7 linked regions of the Homo sapiens genome follow. The protein of the gene in region 1 purifies or fractionates together with the protein of each later gene. This does not show direct contact. Each region holds a gene or a part of one and is shown in the gene's direction. Other genes may lie near its edges.

Region 1 (4,467 bases):
AGGGTAATTTAGTTTAAGCTTAAAAAAAACAGTTGTTCAGTACCTGGGAAGTCAAGTGGATCTACTGGGTAATGTGCACAGAGGTTAAACAATCTTTGTGTCATTTACTACAGTACACCTTCAGCAAATCACTTAGCTTCAGTTTCTTTTACAGGGACTATTTTGTCATCTTAGTAGGAATTGTTCCATGGAAGGATCATGCTGGTTAATATTACCCAGGCGTGTCTCTGGCAGCCTTACAGTTGGAAAGAATGGGATGCTGATGTGGCTGTGGCATCTGTCCCTGGGTCAAGAGCCAGGGCCTCCATCCTCCTTCAGAGGCTAAGCACACGGCCAAAGGGGTGGCCTTCCAGATAAAGGAGACCCAGTCAGTTGTCAAATACAGTTACCAGAAAGTAAGTGCACTCAAACCTGAGTTATAATTAATGGTTTTTTGTTTTATGTTTTGTTTCAGTTGTTTGAATTTATGAACTTTTTGGCGGAGAACGTCATCTTCTGTTACATGGGCCTGGCACTGTTCACGTTCCAGAATCATATCTTTAATGCTCTTTTTATACTTGGAGCCTTTGTATCCTTTGAAATACAGAACATGGGGTGATTAGAGAAGATAACGAATGACTTACTTTTACGAATTATTCTGTTAAATCATTAAAGCACTTTCCTAAAGTCCACTGCAAGGCTCAGACACAAGGCAGATACGTGATTTCTAGTTAGGGGAGGAAAACATCCTAAGAAATTAGGACCTCCATTAAATAATTATGGTTCAAGATAAGAACTTTGGAAAGAACTGTGGAAATAAAGAGGGAAATTAAAGGAAAATCTATTTTTCAAGCATTCAAAATATGTTTAACTATAATTATGAATCATTTACATAAAAATTATGTCTGTGTATTCTTTATAGAGAAACAGACTTAATCTGCATTAGAGTATATCAGGAAGCATCCAGGATTATTCAGCTTTGGAAATGTTTTCATTGCAAGATGATAAAATCTCTTTTCCAATACGGACTTCAAAAATAGGATAGATGATCAAATGAAATTAGCATGATGCATGTGCTTTCAACATCATAAGCATTGTTCAAATACAGGTTCATCTGAATAAGATAGCACCCTTCCTTTCCTATGAAGACAGATGAAATCTAGACCCCACTTTTAATGCAGGGGGTTTTCCTAGCTCTAGGCCTGGGACAGGAGGTGTTTCCAGTGGGAATGGATATCTATCTGAAAGGATGTTGAGCCATTAGGAATGTCCCCAAAGGCAGTCAGCAACTGTTGTCCTTCTTCCCACTTGGAAGATGGGCAGATGCCACCTTGGATCACAGATAATCCGAACAGCCAGCAGAGGCAATCCCTCTCTATAAACTGTGTTCCAATTAAACATCTGCATTTGCTTCTTAGTCTCTTTTCATTGAGCATTCAGCTGAACCCTAAAATTTCATCCAAAACCTGGATTTTAAAAGGAAGTTAACTCTTGCCAAATAACTCCGTCCCATTGAGGACAAACTAGAATAGCCCATCGGGGAAGGAGTCAAAGACAACAAAAAGGGAAAGATGAAGAGCGCCAATATTTTCAAAGACTTTTACTTATAAACTTTTATTTTAGGAAATTGCCAGATAAAGCAACAGTTGTATTATGTAATTAGACAGGTAATTCCTCTCAAAATTAATTCACCAAAGAAAAAGGTATGCAAAGCTTGCTAGATATAGGAAATATAAACTGATAAGAAGGAAGATGGTAAACATGAACAGAAGCACATTTATCCTTTCTAAAGTACCACTTGGGAAGATAATGCCACAGCATCTGAATGGTCTCTGCCTCACATTTTACAGCAGAATTGAGGATAGTCAGTCATCAGCAATATAAATGTGATTAGAAAATTTACAGTGATTGAATTGGTATTGGGCTAACAATTTTAAAGCAAGTATCAAAGAAAGGCAGAGTTCTCTATTATTTCTGGGAAGAACTTGACTTTGAAATATAAATTTTGGAAGCAAGTTGGACAAATGTGAATTGACATGTTTATTTCTGGTTTTGGGGTCATAATGAAGAGAAGCTTGAGGACATAATATTTAAGCTCAAGGATTCAAACCATCATTGCAGCAACACTTTCCTCAATGTTTCCCTGTGCTTATCTACAGCTAGCAATTTTTGTTGCCAGAGCCTGCAACATATATCCCCTCTCCTTCCTCCTGAATCTAGGCCGAAAACAGAAGATCCCCTGGAACTTTCAGCACATGATGATGTTTTCAGGTATGTGAACTATGTTATATGTTAGTGCTGCTGGTTTTCTCACAATTTTACAGAACATGAAAAACCATGAGAAAATTTAGAACCCTTTTGGGGAAACAACTTCTCTTTATCCCATTGTACCTAACACTATGCTGATTCTCCGTAAGTGCTGAGCAACAGCAGGATTTCTCTTTCCAAGTGGGAAATGAAGTTAGAGGGAATCTTATTGGTATGGCTTCAAGGTATCATATCTGGTCAGAAACTGGCCTAGAGTGGACATTGGACTTTCCTCTGACCCATTTCAGATCAATTTTTCATACTGGGGAATTTGAATTATAATTTCATAAATTGCATGCTCAGGGTAAATAGTGTGTAAATGGTGCCACTCTTATCCAATGCCCCTTATCCAGTGTTCCTTCTCCATAAAATCCCTGCTCCTTCCTTATGCAAAGCTCCAGAAACTCCTCACAGTTAATACAAAAGCAAATCAGACCTAAGTATGCTCAGTTGTTAGTTGAGAAAACGAATATTAATTGAGCACTCACCAGGTGCCTGAGATGAGTTCTGGGCACTGATTGATGAAACTGACAAGGTCTCTGTTCTCAAGACATTTGTGTTCTAATTGCTTAAACCATACCTCAAGGCTCCTTTCCAAAAGAAAATAAACCAAATGAATTTTCTGACCTTGAAAGCTCTGGAGATTATGGTTTATCTTTAGTCAATTAATTTTCCTACCTTCAGTCTTTCCCTGTTCAAAGACCTTTTGCAGAGATCCTTACGTGATTCCTATGTAGCTGTACACTTACAATGTACTCAGAGGCAGTTATTGGGGGATACATGAGAGTTTACAATAAAACCTGCTATCAGCATGAACAAATACAATTTAGGGTACATAGGGGCATATAGAAAAAGTGAGAGAAATGAACATTTATTAGCACTTGCTATTTGCCACTCACTATTTTTTAATTAATCCTGTGAAGCAAGTATTAACACATTTTGTAGATGAAGAAACTGAGGTTCAGGATCTCAAAAAGGTTATGAAACTTGGTCAAGAACAAATGTATTCTTGAACCCAGGTCTGTGAGATTCCACCTAAACCCAACCAAGTGTCTCAAAATCCACATTTCTGAAAGCAGTAAAAGGCTTGTTTTGCCTTCAGTGCCATCCTAGCCTGGTCCATACGGTAAAAGGGGCAGCTCCCAAGCTGAGAGTGAGTCATTGATTCAAATACAGACAAATGGAGATACAAAATTAAATTTGCCCTACTGAAGGCCTCTGACAGTACTTCCTTACATTTCCAGACATGTTAGGGTAAGAGAGAGAGAGTCATAAGGAAGGTGAGAAGTTGGAGTGGTAGGTGATTTTTTTTTTTTTTTTTTTTTGAGACGGAGTCTCGCTCTGTCGCCCAGGCTGGAGTGCAGTGGTGTGATCTCGGCTCACTGCAAGCTCTGCCCCCCAGGTTCATGTCATTCTTCTGCCTCAGCCTCCTGAGTAGCTGGGACTACAGGCGCCTGCCACCACGCCCGGCTAATTTTTTGTATTTTTAGTAGAGACGGGGTTTCACCGTGTTAGCCAGGATGGTCTCGATCTCCTGACCTTGTGATCCACCCGCCCCGGCCTCCCAAAGTGCTGGGATTACAGGCTTGAGCCACCACACCCGGCCAAGTGGTAGGTGATTTTTGACTTAGAACAGTAATAAACTTTGGCAATGAGTTGACTTTTATTATGAGAAAGCAAAAGGTAAACTTGAGCACTCATAAATGGGAAGCCAGCATTGGGTTGCATTTTTTCAAAACGTTTCTGGGAATTGGAAAGCACTTTTCCTTCTTTCCCATCAAAACATCAGTAACTTTACTCTGGAGAATAGCAGCTTATTTTCAAAGCTTCAATATTACATTTTAAACATTGCTTTATTTGACAAACAATGCTTTGAGAAAAATATAAGGCCTTAGATAATCATGTTAGGTTGTGAAGTGTCTGCCCAAATGGCCACCTGTCTTGATGGTTTCTCCAGGCTTTCGCACCTTCTAAGTTTGTTTAACGGTAGTATTGGAGCTGCGTTAAAACCTGGTAGAGGCCAATAATATGATGTGTACAGCCAGGGGATGTGAGGAGGTCCAGAATTTATTTCTATGATATTCTAAAGCCAGGAGTCAGCAAACTATGGCTCTTGAATCAAAACTGATCCATGGCTATTTTATTAATATTATTAAGTTGGAACTCATCCCAACCCATTTG
Region 2 (4,467 bases), on another chromosome or scaffold:
TCCCAAGCCATGATTTTCTCATCTGTAAAATGGAATAACAACAGTACCTCCCCCAAGGTTGTGGGGAATACACAGAAACAGCCGTGCTGTGCCCAGCACTTGGGAAAATAGCAGTGGCTGATCCTAGGATAGTAATATTCCTTCCCCTTCTACATGCACTCACCAAGCCAGAACCGGACACCTACTCCATGCCAGCCACTGTGCTGGGTTCTCAGGGTCTAAGGAGCTGAAAGTAGTACCCCCTTCTGCCTCTATAACCCCTCAAGAGCATGGGACGGCGTGGCTCTTTTGTTAGGCTCACTGCCTGATTTCTGTTGGAAACACTCCCCTGCTTTCCCTGGGACCTGGCTTATCCATAACTAAGGCCTCCTCCCACCCCATCTGTTCCCCTCTGCTCACCTACTTCTCTACCCACTCAAAACAAAGCCTCTTTCTCTAGTGCCCCCCACCCCTCACATCCCCTGGCTCCACTGGGGTCAAGCCTCAGAAGGCAAACCCACTCCCCTGTCACCCAGGTGAAGCGGACCCTCTTCATCAATGGAATCTCCAAATATGCAGAGTCAGAAAAGATCAAGAAGCATTTTGAGTGAGTAAGCCACGCTTCCCCCTACCCTCAAGCCCTGCTGCAGAGCCTTCTCTGCCTTTGAACTCTAAGAACATCCTTATACCCTAGCCTGGAGCTCTGCCGTGGGTGGGATAGAGATTAGATCCAGGAAGAAATGTCCGATTCCAGGGTGGTTTAGCACTTGGGTCGGGTGATAGGCCCCTTTAAGAACAGGAAAAATAAGACAAAAACCTGAAGAGTGAGTCATTCAAACCCCCTAACCCCCAAACCTCCTCCTGGCTCAGACTGGGTCATAGGTTGTTGACCCAGGTCCATTGGAGTACATATCTTCTTCAAAATTAAAAGCAGCATTCTGGAGTTTGTGTGCAGCCATGACAGGGAGAAGCTCCTTGGTTTCCAGTGGATTCCAAGGAGTCCAGGAGAACTTGAACTGTGTATTCTCTGAGGCTTTTTCAGCTCTAGAATTATGTTTTGGGGTGGGTAGAGCAGACCTATGGCCAGAAACTAGAGAAAAGGGAGGTGGTATAATGAGGCAAAGAGGGAACTTACCTGGTCACCCCATGGCTAGGGATGCACCTTGGGGCGCAGCTCATAGGGTGGGGAATCAGTGAAGGGCCCCTCCATGGGGGTGTGTAGGGACAGTCTCTATACCACAGGATTAGGGCTACTCTCACACAGGCATCTGTTCACTCAGCAAACTTTCTCAAGTGCTGTTAGTCATAAGTTACTGTGGTGGGCTTTGGGACTGTAAAAAATGAATGAGGCCAGGCATGGTGGCTCATGGCTGTAATCCCAGCACTTTGGGAGGCCAAAGTGGGCAGATCACTTGAGCCCAGGAGTTGAAGACCAGCCTGGGCAACATAGCAAGACCCCATCTCTACCAAAAAATACAAACTTAGCCAGGTGTGGTGGCGTGCGCCTGTAGTCCCAGCTACTTGGGAGGCTGAGGTGGGAGGATCGCTTGAACCCAGGAGGTCGAGGCTGCAGTGAGTCCTGTGCACCACTGCACTCCAGCCTGGGTGACAGAGCAAGACCCTGTTTCAAATGTTTCAAAAAATAAAAAATAGAAGAGGCCAGGCACGGTGGCTCACGCCTGTAATCCCAACACTTTGGGAGGCCCAAGATGGGAGAATTACTTGAGGCCAGGAGTTCAAGACCAGCCTGGTCAGTATAATGAGACCCCATGTCTTAAAAAAAAAAAAAAAAAAAATCATTGAGGGCCGGGAGTTTGAGACCAGCCTGGCCAATATGGTGAAACCCCGTCTCTACTGGTGAAACCTTGTCTCTACTGAAAATACAAAAATTAGCCAGGCATGGTGGCGCGTACCAGTAGTCTCAGCTACTCAGGAGGCTGAGGCAGAAGAATCGCTTGAACCCAGGAGGCAGAGGTTGCAGTGAGCCGAGATTGTGCCACTGCACTTCAGCCTGAGCGGCAGAGCGAGACTGTCTCAAAAAAAGAAAAAAAAATCATTGAGTTCTCAGGGGGTTCATAGTATGGCAGTCGGCTTTAGGAGCTAGTCCAGGGTCTGATCAGAGATTGCTCTGAGGTCAGTCTGTGGTCAGAATCAGGAGCTGGCCAGTGGTCATGATAAAGGATGCTGGTGGTCTGGATCATGGCCCAGACTGAGGTTGAGATTTGGGCTCAGTCTACCATCAGAATCAGGGTTTAGGCCAGGTGTGGTGGCTCATGCCTGTAATCCCCTTGAGAAGATTGCTTGAGCCCGGGAGTTTAAGACCAGCCTGGACAACATGTCGAAACTCCATCTCTACAAAAAATATAAAAATTAGCCAGACATGGTAGCATGCACCAATAGTCCCAACTACTCAGGTGACTGAGGTGGGAGGATGGCTTGAGCCCAAGAGGCTAATGCTGTGGTGAACTGATTGCGCCACTGTACTCCAGCCTGGGTAATAGGGCAAGACCCTGTCTCAAAAAAGAAAGAAAGTAAAGAATCAAGGTTTAATCTGAGGTCCAGACCTGTCAGTTGGCCAGAATCAGAGTTCACTCATTGTCCTGGGTCAGGCCAGTGTGTGATCCAATCAGAGATAGTGTTTGGGCAGGATTGAGAGTGAACATCTATCTGGTCAGGGTCAGATTCCAGAGCCTGTGTTAGAAGATTAAGGACTGGTGTGTGATCAGCATTAGTAGATGGATACTCTTTCATACTACATGCAGTTATTGACAACCTTCTATGTGCCAGGCACAAATAAATTAGAAACAAGCCCAGCCCTTATACAGGCTATAAAACAGCAGTCAAAATTAGATCATTCTTGTCAGTATGAGAGAACTATTTGGGGTCCTATCTGAGGTTCAAGCTGTCATCAGCATTAAAGGGCACTCTGGGTCAGGATTAAGGACAGTGTGTACTCAGAATTAGTGACATCTTTTTTTTTTCTCATACCATCTTTTGTAACAATGAATTAGGTGACATCTTAATATTACCATCCAGTTGGAATCAGTTGTCAGCTTGTATTGAAATCTGGTGTTTGTTGTTTTTGTTTTTGTTTTTGTTTTTTGATACAAATATCTAGTGAGCACCTGCTATGTGCCTGCTTGGGGAGGAGCTGGGGGTATAGCAGTAAACGACAGAAGGCCTGCCCTCATTTGCTTTCATTTTAGTGGGGAGGGGTGGACAGGGACCGGATGAACTAGTAATAGAGACTGTGTCAAGAAGAGGTAGGTGCTAAGAAAACCACAGCAGGGAAGCAGGCAGGGTAAGAGGGGTTGGGAAGGGTTGCTATTTCTGATGGGATAGACAGGGAGGGACTCTGACAGCGTGGCATTTGAACAGAGACCTGAGTGAACCCTACTAGTCAACTGTCTATTCATTCAGCCCACATTTATTGTATACCTACTATGTGCTTCATGCCTGGGAGACAGAGTATAATCAGACCTGATCAGTGCCCTTGGGAAGCTGAAGATCCTAGTTGTGTTTCAGGGGTTGGTCTATAGTTTTGTTTAGGAGAGGTCAGCCTATAAGCAGGGGTAAGGGAGACTCTAGTCCTAATTGGAGTTTTTTGGATCACTGGGATGAGCATTATGGAGTAGCCATTTCATTGATCCGCTCATTTACCACATGTGTATTGAACACCTGCTATATACAAGCTGTTGGGACAGGGCTGGGTATATGGTGAGGACTAAGAGACAGCGCTTGAGCTCATTGTCAGGATTAGGCAGGGCTTGTGGTCCAAGTCTGCAGTCTGTCTGGATTGGAAGACTGTCTCAGCACAATTAGGAAATATCTTGCATGCAAATCAACGGGCCTGTGTGGTTGGATTTAGAGGATTAGAGATGAGTTTAGTGAGAATGAGAGCTCACCCTTCCAAAGGGGAAACCTCAAATGGTTTGAGGAACAATATCAGAGGAAAGGTCTCTAGCCTCCTGGGAAGTACATCTCAAGGACCCTATCCCAGATTTAAGTTTCTAAATTCTCATGGGTTTATGAGGACTATCTTAATACTTTAGAACAGTAACTCATGCATTCAATACTTGGTGGTCCTTCATTTAAAAAAAAAAACAATTTTTTTTGAGACAGAGTCTCACTCTGTCTCCCTGGCTGGAGTGCTGCAATACAGGGGCGTGGTCATAGCTCACTGCAGCCTTGACCTCCTGGGCTGAATCGATCCTCCTGCCTCAGACTCCCGAGTAGCTGGAACTACAGGCACTCACCACCACACCTGGCTAATTTTTTTTTCTTTTTTTAGAGACAGGGTCTCACTATGTTGCCCAGGCTGGTCATGAACTCCTGGCCTCAAGCAATCCTCCTGTCTCAGCCTCTCAAAGTTTTGGGATTACAGGCATGAGCCACTGTGTTCAACCTAAAAATTTTAATAAAATATAAAAAGATGGGGACTCAGTCTAGATTAAGGATTAGGATCAAAGAACAGTGCATGATCAGATT
Region 3 (4,467 bases), on another chromosome or scaffold:
AAAGATCTGAGTTGCAGAGACTGAGTGTTGAAGTAATTTGGTACCTTAAAAATATCAAGAGAAGGCCGGGCACAGGAGCTCACGCCTGTAATGGCAGCACTTTGGGAGGCCAAGGCGGGTGGATCACCTGAGGTCGGGAGTTGGAGACCAGCCCAACCAACATGGAGAAACCCCATCTCTACTAAAAATACAAAATTAGCCAGGCGTGGTGGTGCATGCCTGTAATCCCAACTACTCGGAAGGCTGAGGCAGGAGAATCGCTTGAACCTGGGAGGCAGAGGTTGTGGCAGGCCAAGATTGCACCATTGCACTCCAGCCTGGGCAACAAGAGCAAAACTAGGTCTCAAAATATATATGTGTATATGTATATATTTATTAAGAGAAGAAATACCTCAATTTTAATCAATTATTACTGTCTTACAAAAATATTCTCCAACAGTCTTACTGACTATATGAGAATACTGTTGTTATTTATACTTTTTTCATTTGTTGCCTTGAATTTACTTAGAGAAGAGTAGTACATTTAAATTAAAGAGTTCATACAGTTTGCTCAAGATTTTTTAAATTATGCCTCTAATGTTAGTCTGTCACTCAGGGTATTTCTATATTGTTACTGTTTAAATTTATGGACTAAAACGAAAGAGGCTAGCCTCTAAGAAAGAAGAGCGTTTTGAACCCTGTAATGTCTGTTATTCCTTTTTGCTACCTTCAGTAAATTTTAGTGCCCTTAGTTTTTGCTTCTCAAAATCACCCATCTCTGTCTGGGCATCTCCTGCAGTGCACAGAGCAGCACAGTGGATAGTTTGGAGTTTCAGTGAGTGCTGCTTTACACCACACTCTTTGTTGAGACAGTGTCTTGCTTTTTTGCCCAGGCTGGAGTGCAGTGGCACATTCATAGCTCACTGCAGCGTCTACCTCTACCTCTACCTCCTGGGCTCAAGCGATCTTCCCACCTCAGCCTCCCAAAGTGTTGGGATTACAGGCATGAGCCACTGCACCCAGTCTACACCATTCTCTTGTCTTGCACATATAAACGATGTTTTTTACTGTTGGTGAACATTGTGATTACACTCCTACCTAATTCTAAGGGAGACATCATGAACTTGCATTTTAGTTTTTTGCTCAAATTTGTCATAGTATTGTTATTTTTTAATTGTAATAGACATACTTGCCAAATACTCAAAGGTATCACTTACCACTGCAGACTTAAATATAAAACAAAAGCTAATTGTCCAGTTATACCTGGAAGTTATTTTTTATTTATTTATTTTTTTGAGACAGAGTCTCACTCTATTGCCCAGGCTGAAGTGCAGTGGCAAGATCTCGGCTCACTGCAACCTGTGCCTCCCAGGTTCAAGCGATTCTCATGCATCAGCCTCCAGAGTGGCTGGGATTACAGGCATGTGCCACCACACCCGGCTAATTTTTGTATTTTTAGAAGAGATGGGGTTTCACAGTGTTGGCTAGGCTGGTCTCGAACTCCTGACCTCAGGTGATCCACCCGCCTTGGCCTCCCAAAGTGCTGGGATTACAGGTGTGAGCCACCGCACCCAGCCATGGAAGTTATTTTTTACCTATTTTTCACCTAAGAAGGATGGCAGAGAAAAGGGATGGGACACCTGCCCTTTGACCACCCAGCCATGACCTTATTACAAGTGAGTTCTGGAGGATGTCTGCAGATGGGCTGTGAGATTGAAAGCTGCAGCCATGGCTGTGTCCATGCTGTAGTTTAGAACTGAAGTTTAGCTTTTTTTCTTTTGGTCTGTTTATTTGCTGCCAGCCAAAATTCTGCTTTTTATAGTACATCCACAACTGTACTTTCTAAATACAGCTTTCGAACACTTTTAACTACTCTATTATGAGGGGAGTTTAATATAATAGGATTTCCATTGAGCTAAAAATTATGTTTTCCTTTTTATTTCTTTTTTAAATTCTTTTTTTAATTTATTTGAGCTAAAATTATATACTTTATTTGCAGAACTGCTGGCTTTTAAAAAATATCCTGAAGATGGTATTGATCTTGCTAATTGATGTTTTGTGCACACACCTGCACATGTGTGGGGGAGCAGAGCATACTATTTCGTCTTAAATGGTATAAAATCTCAACCAATAATGTGATTCAACAATTACCATTTCTTTTTAACTCGAATCCTAAGACAAATTATATATATATATATTTTAAACTCTAATAACAGTTACCATTAATTGCTGTAACTCAATTAGATAGGATATTTTGAAGGTGGAATGTATTAGTCTACACATACCACTGATTTGATTTCTCTTCCAGCCATTGGATTTAATGTAGAGACGGTGACGTACAAAAACCTTAAATTCCAAGTCTGGGATTTAGGAGGACAGACAAGTATCAGGTATGGTACAAAGACCAGGTTATTTGGTAGTATTTGACATTTATTGATTCTTTTAAGGGTTAAAATCAGTAAACCCGAATATGTGTTCTATTGTAATTTAAATGGAGCCACCTAGTTTAAAATGAGGTAAAATTGGGAACTATTTCCTTAGAGCATCCATTGAGTTAAAACTTAAGGAAGCCCAGTTTTCCAGATACCTGTTTAATGAAAATCTTTTCACGAAAATCTCAAGACCTTATTACTTCAGCTATTCTCAATTAGAAAGGACCCTCCATTTAGTTCTTGTCAGTCTCTCCTCTCTGAAACACATTGTTTTGGAATTCATTAAAGTACCTTGCAGGCATACCATTTAGGGCTAATATAAAAATAAATGCCATTGGCCGGGCATGGTAGCTCACGCCTGTAATCCCAGCACTTTGGGAGGCCGAGGTGGGCGGATCATCAGGTCAGGAGTTGGAGACCAGCCTGACCAACATGGTGAAACCTCGTCTCTACTAAAAATACAAAAATTAGCTGGGCATGGTGGTGCGTGCCTATAATTCCAGCTACCTGGGAGGCTGAGGCAGGAGAATTGCTTGTACCAGGACTTGGGAGCTGGAGGTTGCAGTGAGCTGAGATCGCGCAACTGCACTCCAGCCTGGGCTACAGAGCAAGACTCTGTCTCAAAAAAAATAAATGAATAAATAAAAAATAAATGCCTTCTGAAGTTCAGGTCTTCTGCTTAGCATTTTGGGCTTGACATGGCAACAGTGAATGTTTGATGACCGTCAGTAGTTGGTCACGATAGTACCATCTTAAAAGATTAGTAATGCATTCTCCAAACATTCTGACTTCTTTTAACTCATTTCTTGAATCACGTTTCTTTTTTTTTAAATTGTGCAGCCTCCCAAGCCAGAGTAGGCTCAGAGAGACTCCATTGAATCACTTTTGAGTTTATTTATAATTTTAGCCATTTCTACTGCTTGATGTCAGTGATTAATTTCATGACTGTTAAATAAAATCACGTTTAAAAAGTTTATTCCTCTTAAGGGGTGCCTAGTTAAAGATTTGTTTAAGAAGATGTAATGATCAGGTCTGTGTACAACTTTTCTATCAGTATATTTAGTGATTTCATAGATTATAAATAAATTTTGTCAGCCTGAAGTCTGAATGAATTCATTTGGAAACTCCCTGGTCCTGTGAGTCAATGTTTATCAACATTCTTTTTTTTTTTTTTTTTTTTTTTTTTGAGACAGAGTTTCACTCTTGTTGCCCAGGCTGGAGTGCAATGGCACCATCTCAGCTCACTGGAACCTCTGCCTTCCTGGTTGAAGTGATTTTCCTGCCTCAGCCTCCCGAGTAGCTGGGATTACAGGCACCTGCCACCATGTCCAGCTAATTTTGTATTTTTAGTAGAGATGGGGTTTCTCCATGTTGGTCAGGCTGGTCTCGAACTCCCGACCTCAGTTGATCTGCCCTCCTCAGCCTCCTAAAATGCTGGGATTACAGATGTGAGCCACCGTGCCCAGCCAATGTTTATCAACATTCTTTTGACTCCATCACATCTGAGGGATATGGTACATATATCCACCAGAAACAGTGAATCATTAAGGCATTGATTCTAACATGTGTGGGACAGAATTGGCAATTGATATGTCAGTTTCTTCCTTAAAACAATAACAATATGTTCTCCCCTTTTAAATTTTCTCTAGGCCATACTGGAGATGTTACTATTCAAACACAGATGCAGTCATTTATGTAGTAGACAGTTGTGACCGAGACCGAATTGGCATTTCCAAATCAGAGTTAGTTGCCATGTTGGAGGTAAGAAAACGTAACCACTTTAAAATGTGGGGCAGTCATTTACATATTATTACATTGAAGAATAATTAAAAAGAATGCAGGGGTTGTTCCCTCCATCCTTTTAAAATTATTTTCTTTTATGGAAATGATTTTCTATTCCAAAAATACAGTTGAGGAGGGTTGGAGACAAAACAACAACAAAAATTAACCTCGTAACTTCCTCTTCAAGCCAGATTGCTTGATTTTCCAGGAGGTTCAGAAGAGCTCACTTAAACAAAAGCATCTATTCTAAGTCACTTCTTTGATGTGACTTTTA
Region 4 (4,467 bases), on another chromosome or scaffold:
TAACAACATGTGAACATAGAATTTATGCAGCACTGGTCAGGATGACAAATGTTCACTTGCCATTTGAAATGCCAGATGTATTTTACACTGACACTGATATACATGGACTTTATTTTAAAGCCACTGAATTATGAAGAAAACCGTCAAGTGAACCTGGAAATTGGAGTAAACAATGAAGCGCCATTTGCTAGAGATATTCCCAGAGTGACAGCCTTGAACAGAGCCTTGGTTACAGTTCATGTGAGGGATCTGGATGAGGGGCCTGAATGCACTCCTGCAGCCCAATATGTGCGGATTAAAGAAAACTTAGCAGTGGGGTCAAAGATCAACGGCTATAAGGCATATGACCCCGAAAATAGAAATGGCAATGGTTTAAGGTAAAAATAAATCTATAACCACATACTAATAATGTATTTGTAATCATTGAGATAGTAACTTATTTGAAAACATTTTCTGATGCTAAAGACTATTTTTTTTTTATTAACAGGTACAAAAAATTGCATGATCCTAAAGGTTGGATCACCATTGATGAAATTTCAGGGTCAATCATAACTTCCAAAATCCTGGATAGGGAGGTTGAAACTCCCAAAAATGAGTTGTATAATATTACAGTCCTGGCAATAGACAAAGGTAAAAAAAAAGTTTTAATCTGGTATTCTATAAAGGAATTAGAGAATAAAATGTAATTATTCTTATGCAGATTTATTTTGGTGGTAAGTGTATGGAATTCTTTGAAATTACTTTAAAGACTCTTTCTGTCTCTCTTAATTATCTAACAAGGTGAAACTGTTTGGTGACAAGAAGCCGTGTTTTATTTATCTTTATATCCCCAATAGGGCAGGACCTTAAATTCTTATGTATTTCTATGCTAGAGGACAAAAATAAAACTGAAATCTAAAACTAGATAAAATGGTCTCATCAGACTCTTCCACATCCGTTTGTGTCACTTTAAATTGAGCTTTTATATAGTTCAGCTGCATATTAGGTCAAAATGATCCTTTTCTTGAATTCTGTTCCTTAAAGTAACCTAGAGTTTTTCAACCTTGTCTTCACATTAAAATAAAAATATTAATCTGTAGATACTTTGTTAGACTAACTGAATCAGAATATCCGGTTGTGGAGCCTAGGAATCTTATATTTTAAAAAAATCTTCCTAGTGGTTTGAATATATACTGGGATTAGAAATCTTATCTGTAACCACTTTACTGCTTACTAACATGTGGCACCTGGAACCCCCAAAAATAGAGATTGAAATTCAGACATTTATTTTTATTTGGTAGTAATTCTGGTAAAAGATTTATTGACAGTTGTATCTGATATTATCAGTAGCAATAGTCATTTCAAATTAGCTGCAGATTCTATTTATCTGTCTATGTTCTTATTTATTTATCATTTCCTTTAATAATCAGTTTATTTAAAAACAGATCATGTATAGAATATAATTGACTTTTTATTCTTTAAGAAACTATGAAAGAATTTTAAAATAACACTAAACCTTATTCCTGTCTCCTTAGATGATAGATCATGTACTGGAACACTTGCTGTGAACATTGAAGATGTAAATGATAATCCACCAGAAATACTTCAAGAATATGTAGTCATTTGCAAACCAAAAATGGGGTATACCGACATTTTAGCTGTTGATCCTGATGAACCTGTCCATGGAGCTCCATTTTATTTCAGTTTGCCCAATACTTCTCCAGAAATCAGTAGACTGTGGAGCCTCACCAAAGTTAATGGTATTTAATAAAAAATAATGATTTATAAACTCTGAAATAACAGAATAACTGGAGGATAGATTGACTTGCTTACTTACACAAAGCATGAAGTAAAACTGAGTCTCATTAATATATTTTAGAAGGATAAACTAACCTTTTACAAATATTATATGGGGGCTCTGTTATATATAAAATGAAGGAAGATGTAATTTTTATGAAGGCAACATTTACATTTACAACAAAGGAAAGCTTTGTTAAAATGTTGGGCAGCTTATCATTAAGACAAACTTTGTGTGTGTGTGTGCATGTTTTTAAAAATAATGCCAATGGCTGGGCATGGTGACTCATGCCTGTAATCCCAGCACTTTGGGAGGCCTAGGTGGGTGGATCACTTGAGGTCAGGAGTTCAAGACCAGCCTGGCCAACATGGTGAAACCCCATCTCTGTTAAAAATACATAAATTAGCTGGGCGTGGTGGCAGGCACCTGTAATCCAAGCTACTGGGGAGGCTGAGGCAGCAGAATCACTTAAACCAGTAGGTGGAAGTTGCAGTGAGCTGAGAGATGGTGCCACTGCACTCCAGCCTGGGGGACAGAGGGAGACTCCGTCTCAAAATAATAATAATAATAATAATACCAGCGAGGTGAGGAGAGAGCAGAAGATGTGTAGTTTAAATTGTATTGTAAGCTGACTCTGGAAGTGAGGAACTCAGGTGTATAGACCAAGCACTCTAGGGTATCCTGGAAGTGAACCTGGCGGGATATAGCAAGGGATATGGGAAGGAGTATTGAGGGGCTGCTGCCTATTGTAGCAGTTTCTGGGGGCTGTCATGTTCTGTACTTCATCCATACTTCATTCTGTTGTTACTGCCATGTTCTTTCATGCAACTGGGCTTTTGTGTATATAGCCATATCTACATAGAATACCTCCTTTTCCATTTCTTAGCTTGATATTTATGAGCATGATATTTTTTTCATGATATTTATGAACATCTACTATCTATTAAGCACTCGTCCAGATCCTGAGGATTTATATAGAGATGAACAAGACAGACACAATCCCAGCTGAGATGCTCCACCTCTGAAGTTTGTCTTGAATTGGAAGGAGTGGCACCATGACCCTTCGCTACCTGCATTGCAGTGCCTTTCCTGTTGTATTAACATCTGATTACTTCTCCCTTCCAATACATGAGTTTCCTAGAATGTTTGCAATTCATCTTTGTACTTCCAGCACCTAGCCTAATGCTTAGTAGATACTAACTGCTTCATAAATGTTTGCTTGTTCAATAATTGATTAATAATGTGCATAAAAGAAGAAACATACCAGGAGAATAAGTATATCCATGTCATTAGAGTTTAGAAGGTTTTAGTAAGAATGCCAAGAGGTTGGGTGGAAGGAAGGGTAGCATCTGGTGGTGAAGGGCCTTGTGTGCCAGGCTGAGGGGACTAACCTTGGTACAGTAGGCAACAGCAATTATGCATTGGGAATGTGCAAATAAGGCAATGCCATTCCCAGATTTACATCTTTTAAAGGTGACACTGTTGACAGGAGGACAATATGAAGGGGGCAGAGTTGAGTGAAGAAAAATCAGAGGCCAATGCACTACTGTGAATAACTGAGACATGACAATGGCTCCACTTGTTGTCTTGAGGGAGCGGAGAGATTTCAAGGATCTTACCTTAGACACAGTGTGGTCTTGAAGGGTCCTAAGTAAACCCAAGTGGTAATTCATATTCCTCTAGGGAGCCTTCAGGTATGAGGTGCAGCCAAAATCTTTGAAATTCTTACAGCTACAGCAGAGCATTTAATCAAGGCTTAGGAATTCCAGATGACTTCCAGGGTGTGTATTATGCTACTTTTTCATTTTACTTAGTCTATTATAAAAGCTCAGGGAGGCTGTAACTGCCATTGAAATTCTGTGGAGCTTTTGGTTAGTTGACAATATGGTCATTAAAATAATAGATCAAGACTATTGGGGAAAATTGACTATCAGAGTTGATAAAAGTGAATTGTTATATAGATATTTCTGTTTTGTGTAAGCCTTATAAGTAGCCTGAGTGACATTAATTAGCTTCTGGTACTAAGATTACTTCCAGATGCAAAGGTGTTAATCGTAAACAATCTATTGTGCTTTGAAAAATTACCTTATCCATATGAATAGTGCGCAAATACTAGAAGGTCAATGGATAAGAAACGTAAACTTCAGAAACTATTTGTGTGTACCTGTAGATACATTGGTACTAAAGAAAAATGCTTGAAGTGTATGTTAACAGCCAACCTAACAGTATTAGTTTGTATAGATAAACATTACTGGAATACTACTGGGCTACTCCAATGCCAAATTATTTCTTTAGGGCTCCCTTCTAAGGAATTACAAGGGACAACACATATAAGATAACAGTAGAGTTTGAAAGGGTTGAAGACAGTCCTCCATTTTTATTTATTTTCATCTGGCAGGCAGTTCCTTGAGAATGACGCCTTCAAAAACAAGCGTGATGAAACAAATGCTAAGGGAAGAATAAATGATCATTAAAAAATAAACTTCTTTTATTTTCTTTCAGATACAGCTGCCCGTCTTTCATATCAGAAAAATGCTGGATTTCAAGAATATACCATTCCTATTACTGTAAAAGACAGGGCCGGCCAAGCTGCAACAAAATTATTGAGAGTTAATCTGTGTGAATGTACTCATCCAACTCAGTGTCGTGCGACTTCAAGGAGTACAGGAGTAATACTTGGAAAATGGGCA
Region 5 (4,467 bases), about 16 Mb from region 1:
TTGAACCTGGGAGGCGGAGATTGCAGTGAGCCAAGATTGCACCACTGTACTCCAGCCTGGGCGACAGAGCAAGACTCCATCTCAAAAAAAATAAAAAATAAAAAAACTAAAGACTATGTTCAGGATACTGTATTGCTGAAATACAAATGATATTCATAATGCAGTTTTGGAGAAATTTCAGCCAAGGATGGAAGCCTGGGGAACACTGTGTTCGTCCAATCATACTGCTAGGTCCTTAAAAGCATGGGCCCTGTCTTCACTTCAGTTTGTAGCTCCAACACCCAGTACAATTGCCAACAGAGAGAGGGTACTCAGGAGGCATTTTCTGAGTGACCACATGCGCAGTGGAACACTGACTCAGTGATTCCTCTCTCTCCCCTGCCTGTCTCCATCTGTCTCCCCTTGCCCCTGCCATAGGGAAGTCTAAGCAATTTGGCCTTTTTGAAATGAAAATAGTGTCTCAGAATCCCCGCAAAGCCTCTGGGTTTTCAGGAGTGTCCACTGAAGTCCCCCCTTCCCCAGGACCTTTGTCATTTGAGACATGCTCTAACCTGGCACCAGTCTTGTGTCTTCTCTAGCCTCCCCTGACTGTCTGGCTTTTATGTCTGCACAGGAGCGTTCCTGGGTGCCTGTGTGGCTGGGTCTGATGAGCCTGGCCCAGAGGGCCTCACCTCCACCTCCCTGCTAGACCTCCTGCTGCCCACTGGCTTGGAGCCACTGGACTCAGAGGAGCCTAGTGAGACCATGGGCCTGGGAGCTGGGCTGGGAGCCCCTGGCTCAGGCTTCCCCAGCGAAGAGAATGAAGAGTCTCGGATTCTGCAGCCACCACAGTACTTCTGGGAAGAGGAGGAAGAGCTGAATGACTCAAGTCTGGACCTGGGACCCACTGCAGGTAGCTCTTCTTACCTACAGAGCATGTGTTGAGTGCCAGCCAAGTGTCTAGGCAAAACACCAGGTGACCATTTCCTTGCCAGAAGCATCTCTTCTCTCTCCCTACAGTTTTTACCATGCTGCTGCTGTTTACCTGCACATCAGAGCAAAGGCTCTGGGACCCTGAATGTCTCACAGGCCCAGGAGGCCCTTTCTCTTTAATACTAACCACTGTTTAGGGAGCCTTTATTCTGTGCTCATTTAATTCAATCTGATGCTTATAACCTGAGAGATAAGTAATATGACCCCCCTTGTAGACAAGAAAACACTGAGACTGAGAGGTTAAAAGCTGGCCTGAGGTCAAACAGCAGCTCAGATGCTCAGTCATGATTCAGACCTATGGCTTTCCAAGCCCTGGGGCTCATTGTTTTGTTTTTCCCTACTGCTCTATGCTGTCTCTGTTGAAGATTGCCACAAGGTCAGCTGATCCATGTTTCCTTGAGTCTATCCGACCAGCAATTGAGGCATTCTAACCGCCCTTCCCTCAGTCATGCACCAGAGCTAGAGCTGGTGTTTGGATCTACAGAGCCCAGCTGGTGAACATTTGGGTCCCGAAGAAAGCCCGAGGCCTAGGGCTCCAGGTTTGAATGCCCACCGCCATGAGCTGACATTGATACAGATGCAGGCATGGCCCCTCCACCAATGTCCTGGGCCAGCAGGGCCCCATCTCTTAGTAGGGACTGAGGAATTGGTGTGATTGTGTGTGCACATGGGGCAAGGTGTTACAGAACTTAACCTTTAATTTTTCTTTTTAAAATAGGTAATATTTATTGGATTTACCTTTTCTAATTATAAAAGAACACATGAACATTGTAGAAAATCTGAAACACACAAAAATAATACAAAGAAGAAAATAAGGCTGGGTGTGGTGGCTCACGTCTGTAATCCCAGCACTTTGGGAGGCTGAGGCGGGTGGATCACTTGGGGTCAGGAGTTTGAGAACAGCCTGGCCAACATGGTGAAACCCTGTCTCCACTAAAAATACAAAAATTAGCTGGACATGATTGCGGGCATCTGTAATCCCATCTACTCAGGAGGCTGAGGCAGGAGAATGGCTTGAACCCGGGAGGTGGAGGTTGCAGTGAGCTGAGATCGCACCACTGCTCTCCAGCCTGGGCGACAAGAACAAAACTCTATCTCAAAAAAAAATAAAATAAAATAAAAAATAAAAACTACCTATAACCTGATAATTGAAAGATAATTACTATTAGTAGTTTGGGGATACATTGTTCTAGTCACTTTATGTGCAAAATTGGAATCATAGGGACATTTTGTTTTCACTCAAAATATTTCATAAGTATATTTCCGCATTGTTAAATATCCATTTATAACCTGATTTTTAAACATGTTATTATTTATTTATTTTTTTGAGATGGAGTCTTGCTCTGTCACCTGGGCTAGAGTGCAGTGGCGTGACCTTGGCTCACTGTAACCTTCATTTCCTGAGTTCAAGTGATTCTCCTGCCTCAGCCTCCGAGTAGCTGGGATTACAGGCATGCGCCATCACACCCAGCTAATTTTTGTATTTTTAGTAAAGACAGGGTTTCACCATGTTGGCCAGGCTGGTCTCTAACTCCTGACCTCAAGTGATCTGCCCGTCTCGGCCTCCCAAAGTGCTGGGATTACAGGTCTGAGCCACCGCACCCGGACAACATGTTATTATTTATTTATTTATGTTTAGAGTTGAGGTTTTGCTCCATTGTTCAGGTGTGATCATAGTTCACTGTAACCTCGAACTCCTGGGCTCAAGCGATCCTCCCACCTCAGCCTCGTAGGTAGCAGGGACCAAAAATGTGCCACCATGCCTGACTAATTTTTTCATTTTTTTGTAGTGATGGGGTCTTGCTATGTTGCCCAGGCTGGTCTTGAACTCCTGGGCTCAAGCGATCCTCCTCCCTTGGCCTCCCAAAGTGCTAAGATTATAGCTGTGAACCACTGTGCCTGGCTTATAACTTGATTTTTTTTTCTTGAGACGGAGTTTTGCTCTTGTTGCCCAGGCTGGAGTGCAGTGGTGCCATCTTGGCTCACCACAACCTCCGCCTCCCAGGTTCAAGCGGTTGTCCTGCCTCAGCCTCCTGAGTAGCTGGGATCATAGGCATGTGCCACCATGCCCGAATAATTTTGTATTTTTTTTAGTAGAGACAGGGTTTCTCCATGTTGGTCAGGCTAGTCTCGAACTCCTGACCTCAGGTGATGTGCCCACCTCGGCCTCCCAAAGTGCTGGGATTACAGGCATGAGCCACCGTGCCCAGCCCTGATTTTTAACAACTACGTTATATTTCATCATGTGGGTCATCAGGTGTATTAAACTGGTTCCCTACTGTTGAATACTTAGGTTGTCTTCAGTTTTAATTCTGCTACAAATATCCTTACACATTTTCGCACCTTCCTGGTGGTTTCCTTAGGATAAATTTCTAGAATAAAATTGATAGGTCAAAAGATGTATTAGGGCCGGGCACGTGGCTCACGCCTGTGATTCCGGCACTTTGGGAGTTCGAGGTGGGCAGATCATGAGGTCCGGAGTTCGAGACCAGCCTGGCCAACATGGTGTAACTCCGTCTCTACTAAAAATACAAAAATTAGCCAGGTGTGGTGGCGGACGCCTGTGAACCTAGCTACTCAGGAGGCTGAGGCAGGAGAGTTGCTTGAACCTGGGAGGTGGAGGTTGCAGTGAGCTGAGATTGCACCACTGCACTCCAGCCTGGGGGACAGAGCGAGACTCCATCTCAGAAAAAAAAAAAAAAAAAGATGTATCAGTCAGCATCCCACGCGGAAACAGAAGACACAATCAAATTAAAACAATCTAAGGAGAGTTTGTTTATGAAGCAGCAGATTTATGAAGGTATGGGCTGGATACAGGTGAACTACCAAAGGACTCACAAGTCCTTTGGCTAAGGATCTGTGGCTAGCAACAGCTGAGTGCTTACCATCTCTAGGCACAGTGAGACCAGGGAAGGGATGAAGATGGGAGCCTGCAGGGAAAGTGGTGTAGAGAGGTGGCCAGATATGGGAGGAGACGAAGAGAATGAACGCCGCACCCCCCACCAAGTGTTCTCTCTTTCCCTTGTCAGTTTGATAGGAAAAATTATAATGGCCTTTGATTACTAGTATATTTTAACTCATATATGTACAAAACATATGTGTACGTTCATTATATACAGAATATGTGTATTCTATAGAATATACATATACACAAAAATAGTGACCACTTATCACTCTTCTTTTTTATTTGAAGCACAGTGTAGTTAAGAGAACAGGCTTTGGAGTCAGGAAGGCTCCAGTGCTGTCATTTAACAGTGATGCAATTTTTGGCGAGTAACTAACCCTAAGCCTCAGTTTCCCATCTAGGAAATGGAGATAATTATATACCTACCTCACAGGGTTGTGAGGTTCACACACCATCATACATTTCGAGCACTCAGCTCAGTGCTTGGCACATTGTTAAGTGCTCTGTGACTATTAGCTATTATTATTACTTTCCTGTTTTTTTCTATTGAGTCTTTAATTTTTTCTTATCCCTGTACAAATCTGAAAAAG
Region 6 (4,467 bases), on another chromosome or scaffold:
GGGAATAACAACAGTACTGAATTTGCTTTTAAGTATTTAGTGTTATTTGAAATAATCACACATTTTCCATATGCTTATATGGGCTTGGGAAAAAGAAGGGAATATTATGAATTACAAAAAAAACCTCTAACTTGAAGAATATTATTCATCGCTTCATATAAACAGAGCTGATTTAGCATTTGAAAGTGCTGAATACTAGGGAACCACCAGACTCTCCTCTAAATTATCTCTGTTACCCCCACGAGAGATTGGGTGTGAGCACGTGTAAAGAAGGCCTTTTAGGGGATGTCATGTCTCAAAGACAGTTAAGGAATGAGTTCCTCTCACGTATGTGTGTTTTTTAACAAGCAAAGTAATCTATTACTTGATTGAAATATTTTTCTGCTCCCGAGGGCTAGTTTTTCTCTTTAAAAAGGGGTGGAATTGTGTAATTCCTATATAGTAACAACACAGAAGATGTAGTGACTCTGGTGTGGATATAAATTATATTACTATACACAGGAAGTTTCACTATAAAAACTCACTAGTGCAAGCTGAGTATGATAGCAATCAAGATAAATACTAACAATTATTTAAATACTCTCAGGGTCATTAAGAAATCAAAAGACATGGCAAAGGAAGCAGTTGGAGGCCAAGCAGAAGACCACTTGAAACTCAAAGATGGGCAGCAACAAAATGAGACTAAAAAGAAGAAAGGATGGCTGGATCAGGAAGACCAGGAAGCACCACTGCAGGTTTGCTGACTTGACACTTTATCAGGGGATGAGAACCAGATTATAAAGTTCAGATGGAACCCAGAGCAAAAATCTCTGTCTCTGAGAAAGAAGACATGAGCAGATTCTCTGGCTGCATTTTATTTTTTATTTTATTTATTTATTTATTAATTTTGAGATGGAGTTTCACTCTTCTCAGCCAGGCTGGAGTGCAATGGCACAATCTTGGCTCACTGCAACCTCTGCCTCCCAGGTTCAAGCCATTCTCCTGCCTCAGCCTCCCAAGTAGCTGGGATTACAGGCATCTGACACCACGCTCAGCTCAGTTTTGTATTTTTGGTAGAGATGGGGTTTTACCATGTTGGCCAGGCTGGTCTTGAACTCCTGACCTCAGGTGATCCGCCCGCCTCAGCTTCCCAAAGTGCTAGGATTACAGGTGTAAGCCACTGCGCCCAACCTCTGGCTGCATTTTTATGTTACAGTCTCTATTACCCAGTACCACTGCAGGTCATTGTCAGCCACCCTCAGAAAACCATAGAATGTTTTCCTAGTGAAATAAGCAGAAAACAGCAAATTGTAGATTAGTAGTCCTTAATTTGAAATCCAAATTGCTTTAACAGATTCCACATCCTACATTGGTTTCCCCCATCTTGCATTCTGTGGTACCATATACAACTCCATCAACTGGACCTTACACCCCTGTAACAGATAAGATAAACCATACATACTTCTACAAGTTTAAAATCATTAACTGAAGAATGTCTCATCTATCTAAAGTCAAGTCACTGGGTAAATAAATGCCCAAACTGAGCTCAGACTATACTCAGTTTGAATTATTACCATAGCCCAATTTATATTTCCAGTTTTTAGTGTATTATTCACCAGCATTGGTCATATGTTTTATATATGATTGTTTATGCTTGCATTTCTCAGGAGGGTGCCTTCAAGAATCCTCTCAGTGCTTTTGAGAAATGTCAGGCTGTTGGCTCCTGTTACTGTGTTAATGGATAGCTCCACAGTCACATACTTTGAATTAGGATGGTGTGATGTTCATAACAATGACCCTGTGGTCCTGAATCCTCAGGATAACATTTAGCCTAGCTTTGTGCATTCTAACTAGTGCTTTGAAAATTGACAATCCGCAAATATCATGATATAGGAACCCTCATTCAAAAGGTTACACTCTTTTGTTATACTAGATAACATTTACCATTGAAATTTTTAAACTAGAGTTCTCTGATGTCACTCAGGTATCTTGAGATTGAATGATATTTTTATGCAAATTTCCTAGAAAGGGGACGCCAAAATAAAAGCTCAAGAGGAAGCTGACAAACGCAAGAAAGAACACGAGAGAATTATGTTACAAAATTTACAAGAACGGTTAGAAAGGAAAAAGGTACTCGCTCTCTGTTTGGGGGGACTTGATTCTGTGTTTAAAACAATGTTGGGCACCTGATATCAGCATGTTTTTAAAAATCACAAATCTGATATATGCTAGTTCCTGGTGGTTTTCCCACTCGATTCTCTTCCTTATCCAAGGATCTGACTTCTCCTACATAGAGGGCTGTCCTCTTACTGATCATGCCTCCCTCTCATGGACCCTTGGTGGCCATTGGCCATTACAGTGATGCCTCACTATATCAAACCTCTGGTAACAAAACTTCTCTGAGCAGAAGGACTCCAGTCATGGTAGGGGTTGGTAGAAGTTAAGACTTTCTTCTAAACTGGCTGGAAATTGCAGCAACTACATGGGGAGAAGCACAAACTGTAGGCCTCTTTGAGAGGCCAAGGTGCAGGCTATTTTTAAGGTAGGGCCACATGTGAGCTCATCTGCAGCCCTGGTCCAGGCTGAGTTGCTGCAAGGCCTATCTGGTAGTAGATTGGTCACCTTGAGGGGGCCAGGGAGCTGCAACTCTCCTCACTGCAGGGAAAGAAGTGTGCACAGGAGAGAGAATTCCTGTCCTTCCCTAGAAATATATTTCTCCTCCACCTCCTATCTTCTCTCTTCATTAACACAAAACAGTGTGGCATCATTGAGGTGTATTATTTTCATTAACATTGGCTTCAGGAATCAGCTGAAGACTAAAGACTAAAATTATGTTAAAAGCTCTAATTGGTTCGCAATAATATATGCTTAGTCTAATGAATTTCTGCATATGCAAAATTAGGAGTGAGATGTTGTCATTTGAATGTTTGTGTTATAACAAATACAGCGGTCATCATTCAGGGCATTTTATAGCTGAAACTGGGATTGGGATAGGGGACTCAACTGCCACCGTAAGCCTTTTGTTGGTAATATTTGTGGTTTTGGAGCAATCACTGCCATTGTGCACCTCTGTGAAATGGGGATAATCAACTCCTTTAGGACAACTGTTTGGTTTCTAATCTGTTTTCATGTTTGAATTTTTATTTTCCTTTAAATAGAGAATAGAAGAAATTATGAAGCGGACAAGAAAGACAGATGTGAATGCCTCAAAGGTAGTCTCCATACTCCTACCAGCAGTGTATAAGAATGCCTCTTGTTTCACATTATTGCCGAGTTTTTCACTTTACCCAATCTGGTGGTAATGAAATAAAGTATTACATTTGCATTTCCCTGATTATCAACAAGGTTGACCATGTTTTCATATCTTTAGTTAGCTCTCATATTTCTTTTGTGTGAAATGTTTTTTTTTATCTTTTGCCCAAGACTTTTGGGTTGATTTGTCTCATTGTGGTTCTTTAAATGTTATAGATACTGCTTCTTTTTTGGTTATGTGTTGCAGATACCTTCTCCCAGTTTACAGCTTATCTTTTCTTTTTCTTTTTTTCTTTTTTTTTTTTGTATACAATGTGTAATGATCAAATCAGGATAATTAGCAAATCCATCACCTCAAACGCTGATCATTTCTCTCTTTTTTTTTTTGAGACAGAGTCCCGCTCTGTCACCCAGGCCAGAGTGTAGTGGTGTGATCTCGGCTCACTGCAACCTCCACCTCCTGGGTTCAAGTGATTCTCCTGCCTCAGCCTCCTGAGTAACTGGGATTACAGGCATGCACCACCATGCCTAGCTATTTTTGTATTACTATTAGAGACAGGGTTTCAACATGTTGGCCAGACTGGTCTCGAAATCCTGACCTTAGGTTATCCACCTGCCTTAGCCTCCCAAAGTGCTAGGATTACAGGTGTGAGCCACCATGCCCAGCCAGTTTATCTTTTCTTAATGTTGTCTTCTTCTGGATAGAAGCTTTTTTTTTTTTTTTTTTTTTTTTTGAGATAAGAGTCTTGCTCTGTCACCCAGGCAGGAACACAGTGGCGCAATCATGGCTCACTGCAGCCTCCACCTCCCAAGCTCAAGCAATCCACCCATCTCACCCTTCCAAGTAGCTGAGACTACAGGTGCATGCCACCACACCTGGCTAATTTTTTATTTTTTATTTATTTATTTTTTTGTAGAAACAGGATTTTGCCATGTTGTCTAGGCTGGCCTTGAACTCCTGGGCTCAAGTGATGCACCCGCTTCAGCCACCCAAAGTGCTGGGATTGCAGGCTTGAGCCACCACACCCTGCATTCTGATTTTAATGTTCTTGAATTTACCAGTATTTTCTGATGACTAATGAAGTTAGGCACCTTTTCATAAATGCTTAGTGGCCTGTTGGAGATTTGCTTTGGTGAAGTACCTTTTCAAGTCATTTGCCCATTTTCCTATTTTGTCACCTGCCTTTTTCTGATTGAATTGTAGGTATTTTTACCTACACTGGTTAGGAGTCCTTT
Region 7 (4,467 bases), on another chromosome or scaffold:
TTGCTATTTGACCTCAGTAACTCACAGAAATGCCATGCCTGTTGTTCAAAGCAAGTGTGAAAAAACAGTCTTTGTTTATAACCTGCTTTTGTGGTGAGAACTGTAGAAGCTCACTTACCCAATGTGACTTGGACTGGTAATTAAGTGAAAAGTTGGTTAAAGGCTTTTTCTTGGAGGTGTGGTCCATGGATTGGAGTTCTGTATTATCTTTTGTGCATACACTTTACCCATAATTTCCAGGTGGATTTCTTTGAAATGGCTGGAGAACTTAGACTTTGTAGAGCATCTGAGAGTGCCAAAACCTCTTGGATTTTTGTAGAGTTCACTCCCAACCTTTTCTAATTTTAATGCTTATACCTAGTTAGCAGTATTTTTTTTTTCTAGAAGAAACACTTCATTTAAAAAATTTTCCCAAAGCTTTCAACTTATAATATCTATTCTAGAATGTCAAAGTCATTGTAATAACAGTTCAACAACCAGGCCTTCAGAAGTTTTTATACTATTTAATTATATTTCATAATTAACTGTAACAAGTGTAACTAGCACAGACAGATACCAGAATGAACTTGGTTGACCCATGATGTGTAGCAACTCCTGTCTACAAGCTCTGAGCGTTAGGCAAACCATAGGCTGATGGGTATATGTTGGAGGGATAAAAGTTGGTCAGCTTTCTGATGACTCAGCTCAGTGGAGGTTGCTTACGAGAGCTGCTACTGTATCCTTAAGGGGCCATTGGTAAATTTTAGGACAAGTATCTTCAGGGAACCTAAAGGGAAAATAAATGTGTGTGTGTGTGTGTGTGTGTGTGTGTGTGTGTGTGTGTGCTCGTGTGTGAAGCCTTATTGAAGAGTAGCAATAGACTCTTTCTTACTAGGCGTAATCAAGTTGCCCTCCTGGGGAAACTCAAATGCAAAAATCCTCTTGAACTTTTCTGGGTAGCCTACTCTACTCTTTCCTAATAGTACCACTACAGTATACAGCACTGTAAAATTTTTTGCTTTAAAAGTTTGTTTATAAACTGGCATTTATAAGTATACTTTTTGAGCTGATTTAAGAATCAAGTTTTTTTTTCTAGGGAAATGCTTCTTTGTAATTATCTGTCACTAGCAAAATTTGTTTTAACATATATTTTTCTAAAAATATGATATGTAAACTGTGTTGTAGTTGTACAATTAAAGGTTTTTGGTCGAACAGTTATTACATGATGTAAAATCATGTGTAACACTTTAATATTAATTACATTGTAACCTAAAATTCATTTTAAAACTTTTTATGTGGCTTGAACAGGAATTTTCTTATCCAAAGCTTTGTATGTATGCTTTATTGCCTCCTTTGTTATTAGCATGGAGACCATGGGTTTTCTGTTATTGTTGTTTCATTTAAACAGTTCATGAATATATTAAGCACCTGAAAGAAACTGTTAGATGCTGTTAATAGGAAGAGGAGTTAAAAACCTCGTCCTTGCCCTTATCTACATGTGTACATGTAGAACTTACTGTAGTTCCCTAGATGTAGCAGGTGCTCAGGAAACATTTTTGTAGTAGTAAAAAAGAAATGTCAAACTCTAACTTGCTCTGGAGCAAATTCCGCTAGTAAACATTGTTTTTCAAGCTTCTTTTTTTTGCCTTGCGTCCTACTTTCTTAGGCCAAAATAATTCATCCACATCCCACCTTAGCTGTTTTTTTGTGTCAAACAAAAATCTTATTTGGAAATAGCATGTTATGCCAACTGTGTTGGGGCATCCCATACTGTATTGCATTAAATGAGGAGAAAGATGCAGAGGCCATGTGGGGAGGATTGTGATCCTGATAAGAGTGGGATGAGGGATAACAACAGAGAGACTGCCGTTCAATATTTCTTTCTTTCTTTTTTTTTGAGACGGAGTCTGGCTCTGTTGCCCTAGGCTGGAGTGCAGTGGCGTGATCTTGGCTCACTGCAAGCTCCGCCTGCCAGGTTCACGCCATTCTCCTGCCTCAGCCTCCCAAGAAGCTGGGACTACAGGCGCCCGCCACCACGCCCGGCTAATTTTTTGTATTTTTAGTAGAGACGGGGTTTCACTGTGTTAGCCAGGATGGTCTCAATCTCCTGACCTCGTGATCCGCCCGCCTCGGCCTCCCAGCGTGCTGGGATTACAGGAGTGAGCCACCGCGCCCGGCCTGCCATTCAGTATTTCTAATTAATTCAGATGGGGAAGAAAATCTCTAGTGACTATTATTTTTTAAACCTGTACCTGTGTGTCCCTCCAGTGAAGGCCATTTAAACCCCATTTTTGGTGAAGTAGTTTATGATTCATTTATGTGAAACTTTTAGTTACTAGAAACACTACAGGTATTTTGTACTCCTGTGATTTTTAAAAAAATGCTTCTTTTTTTCCCCTAGTCTCCTTATATACATTTGACAAAGCCAAACAGTGTATTGGCACAATGACCATCGAGATTGATTTCCTGCAGAAAAAAAGCATTGACTCCAACCCTTATGACACCGACAAGATGGCAGCAGAATTTATTCAGCAATTCAACAACCAGGCCTTCTCAGTGGGACAACAGGTAGTTTTTAATTTTCTTTCATTCCTTTAACTTTATAGGTATTCTAATTTCTGCAGTTTTCCAAAATTAATTCCACCTTTTAAAAAGTGAGAGGGGCTTTGCGTATCAACTCGTATATCCAAGGTGAGTGATAAAAGTGAGGGAGATGTATTTACTGAACTTCAAGGAGTCTGTTCAGAAAAATTCTAAAGTAGCTTTTAGATTAAAATGTCATGTATAATTATAGCAGCTTTTCCCTCAGCAAATTTGGGAACCCTGTGGACATATATATCTGAAATTCCTTTTTATATCATAGGACATTTGTTTTGCCTCTGGAATGTCTGTCTCTTTCACTAATATAGTTCTGTAGAAAATGTAGCTCTTGGCCAGACATGGTGGCTCATGCCTGTAATCCCAACACTTTGGGAGACTGAGTTGGGAGGATCGTTTGAGCCCAGGAGCTCAAGATCAGCTTGGGCAACAAAGTGAGACCCTGTCTCTACAAAAATTTTTTTAAAAGTAGCTGCGTGTAGTGGTCTCAACTACTCAAGAGGCTGAGGTGGGAGGACGGCTTGAGCCTGGGAGGTTGAGGCTGCAGTGAGCCATGATTGTGCCACGGCACTCCAGCCTGGGTGACAGATCGAGATTGTCTCAAAAAAAAAAAAAAAGTTCTTATTTTGGTTATGGGCTTATTTGAGAATCTTAAAAAACTGAATTCCTGCTAGATAGGAAAAGGATATAGTACATTATTTTAAAAAGAGTACTAGAATTGGAATGAACCTCAAGAGATTACCTTATGTAACTCCACATATACAAATGAGGAATTTTATTTTTTTATTTTTTAAAATTTTATTTATTTATTCATTTATTTTTTGAGATGGTGTGTTACCCTGTCATCCAGGCTGGAGTGCAGCGGCACCATCTCAGCTCACTGCAACCTCCGCTTTCTGGGTTCAAGTGATTTTCCTGCCTCTGCCTCCCGAGTAACTGGGATAACAGGCATGCGCCACCACACCCGACTAATTTTGTACTTTTAGTAGAGATGGGGTTTCACCATGTTAATCAGGCTAGTCTCGAACTCATGAGCTCAGGTGATCCATCCGCCTTGACCTCCCAAAGTGCTGAGATTACAGGCATGAGCCACCATGCCCAACCATTTTTTTTTTGTATTTTTAGTAGAGATGGGGTTTTGCCATGTTGGCCAGGCTGGTCCTGACCTCAAGTGATCCTCCCACCTCGGCCTCCCAAAGTGCTGGGATTACAGGTGTGAGCCATCACGCCTGGCCAAATGAGGAATTTAAGATCTAAAGAAGGTAAATGGTATGCCCATGGCTACACAGCTAAGGGACATAGTTGAGATAAGAATTAATTAAACACATATTTGATAGTACCTAGTGCCTAGTACCAGTCACTGTTTTAGACACTGCAGATCGGCAGTGAACAAAATAGATATGATCCCTGCTGTCATAGAACTTACTTTCTAGTTGAAGAAAACAGAAAATAAGACAGGAATACCATGTACAGTTAGGTCTCTGATGAAAGTAGATCAGGACAATTCACCAGAGAGCTATTGCGGTGCTGTTGTGTATTGGATGACCAAAATTGTGCTCAGATTGCCTAGCTAAACTTGATGGTTTTTACCTTTGCTTTTAGTTTTAGTATCCTAATAGAAAATGTTTAGGAGAATGTTTAATAGAAAATGCTTTGGTATTTATAATAATTTAAAACTCAGTAGCATGTAGAAGTCAGTAAATCCATGAAAGAGAATCTTTCGTAATTCAGAGAAGAAGTAAATATCTTACTCCAGATCACTGTCCTTAACTGTTTCTTCTCATTTGTGGTATCTCGTAGTAGCAGAATGGACAGACAGCCCAACCTGTAATATTTACCATTATACCCCAGCACATAGAAGAAGACCAAACTTTTAGAAGGGACTCAGCA

The links.
Region 2: the proteins of SLC9A9 (region 1) and TMEM63B purify together in Homo sapiens (affinity purification with mass spectrometry; one large-scale study listed by BioGRID and IntAct). This does not show direct contact.
Region 3: the proteins of SLC9A9 (region 1) and ARL1 purify together in Homo sapiens (affinity purification with mass spectrometry, with the first as the bait; one large-scale study listed by BioGRID). This does not show direct contact.
Region 4: the proteins of SLC9A9 (region 1) and DSC3 purify together in Homo sapiens (affinity purification with mass spectrometry; one large-scale study listed by BioGRID and IntAct). This does not show direct contact.
Region 5: the proteins of SLC9A9 (region 1) and PODXL2 purify together in Homo sapiens (affinity purification with mass spectrometry; one large-scale study listed by BioGRID and IntAct). This does not show direct contact.
Region 6: the proteins of SLC9A9 (region 1) and MAP7D3 purify together in Homo sapiens (affinity purification with mass spectrometry; one large-scale study listed by BioGRID and IntAct). This does not show direct contact.
Region 7: the proteins of SLC9A9 (region 1) and NSF purify together in Homo sapiens (affinity purification with mass spectrometry; one large-scale study listed by BioGRID and IntAct). This does not show direct contact.

Annotation. Positions count from the first base shown.
Region 1 is NC_000003.12:143,491,436-143,495,902, reverse strand, and holds part of SLC9A9 (sodium/hydrogen exchanger 9), read left to right. Parts: intron 1-454; coding exon 455-568; intron 569-2,138; coding exon 2,139-2,250; intron 2,251-4,467. UniProt on the Homo sapiens protein: Endosomal Na(+), K(+)/H(+) antiporter. Mediates the electroneutral exchange of endosomal luminal H(+) for a cytosolic Na(+) or K(+).
Region 2 is NC_000006.12:44,140,513-44,144,979, forward strand, and holds part of TMEM63B (mechanosensitive cation channel TMEM63B), read left to right. Parts: intron 1-515; coding exon 516-586; intron 587-4,467. UniProt on the Homo sapiens protein: Mechanosensitive cation channel with low conductance and high activation threshold. Osmosensitive cation channel preferentially activated by hypotonic stress.
Region 3 is NC_000012.12:101,400,767-101,405,233, reverse strand, and holds part of ARL1 (ADP-ribosylation factor-like protein 1), read left to right. Parts: intron 1-2,287; coding exon 2,288-2,369; intron 2,370-4,060; coding exon 4,061-4,172; intron 4,173-4,467. UniProt on the Homo sapiens protein: GTP-binding protein that recruits several effectors, such as golgins, arfaptins and Arf-GEFs to the trans-Golgi network, and modulates their functions at the Golgi complex.
Region 4 is NC_000018.10:31,004,179-31,008,645, reverse strand, and holds part of DSC3 (desmocollin-3 isoform Dsc3a preproprotein), read left to right. Parts: intron 1-120; coding exon 121-377; intron 378-487; coding exon 488-630; intron 631-1,514; coding exon 1,515-1,739; intron 1,740-4,279; coding exon 4,280-4,467. UniProt on the Homo sapiens protein: A component of desmosome cell-cell junctions which are required for positive regulation of cellular adhesion. Required for cell-cell adhesion in the epidermis, as a result required for the maintenance of the dermal cohesion and the dermal barrier function.
Region 5 is NC_000003.12:127,638,632-127,643,098, forward strand, and holds part of PODXL2 (podocalyxin-like protein 2 precursor), read left to right. Parts: intron 1-613; coding exon 614-892; intron 893-4,467. UniProt on the Homo sapiens protein: Acts as a ligand for vascular selectins. Mediates rapid rolling of leukocytes over vascular surfaces through high affinity divalent cation-dependent interactions with E-, P- and L-selectins.
Region 6 is NC_000023.11:136,223,551-136,228,017, reverse strand, and holds part of MAP7D3 (MAP7 domain-containing protein 3), read left to right. Parts: intron 1-586; coding exon 587-734; intron 735-2,004; coding exon 2,005-2,109; intron 2,110-3,137; coding exon 3,138-3,191; intron 3,192-4,467. UniProt on the Homo sapiens protein: Promotes the assembly and stability of microtubules.
Region 7 is NC_000017.11:46,634,996-46,639,462, forward strand, and holds part of NSF (vesicle-fusing ATPase), read left to right. Parts: intron 1-2,380; coding exon 2,381-2,547; intron 2,548-4,467.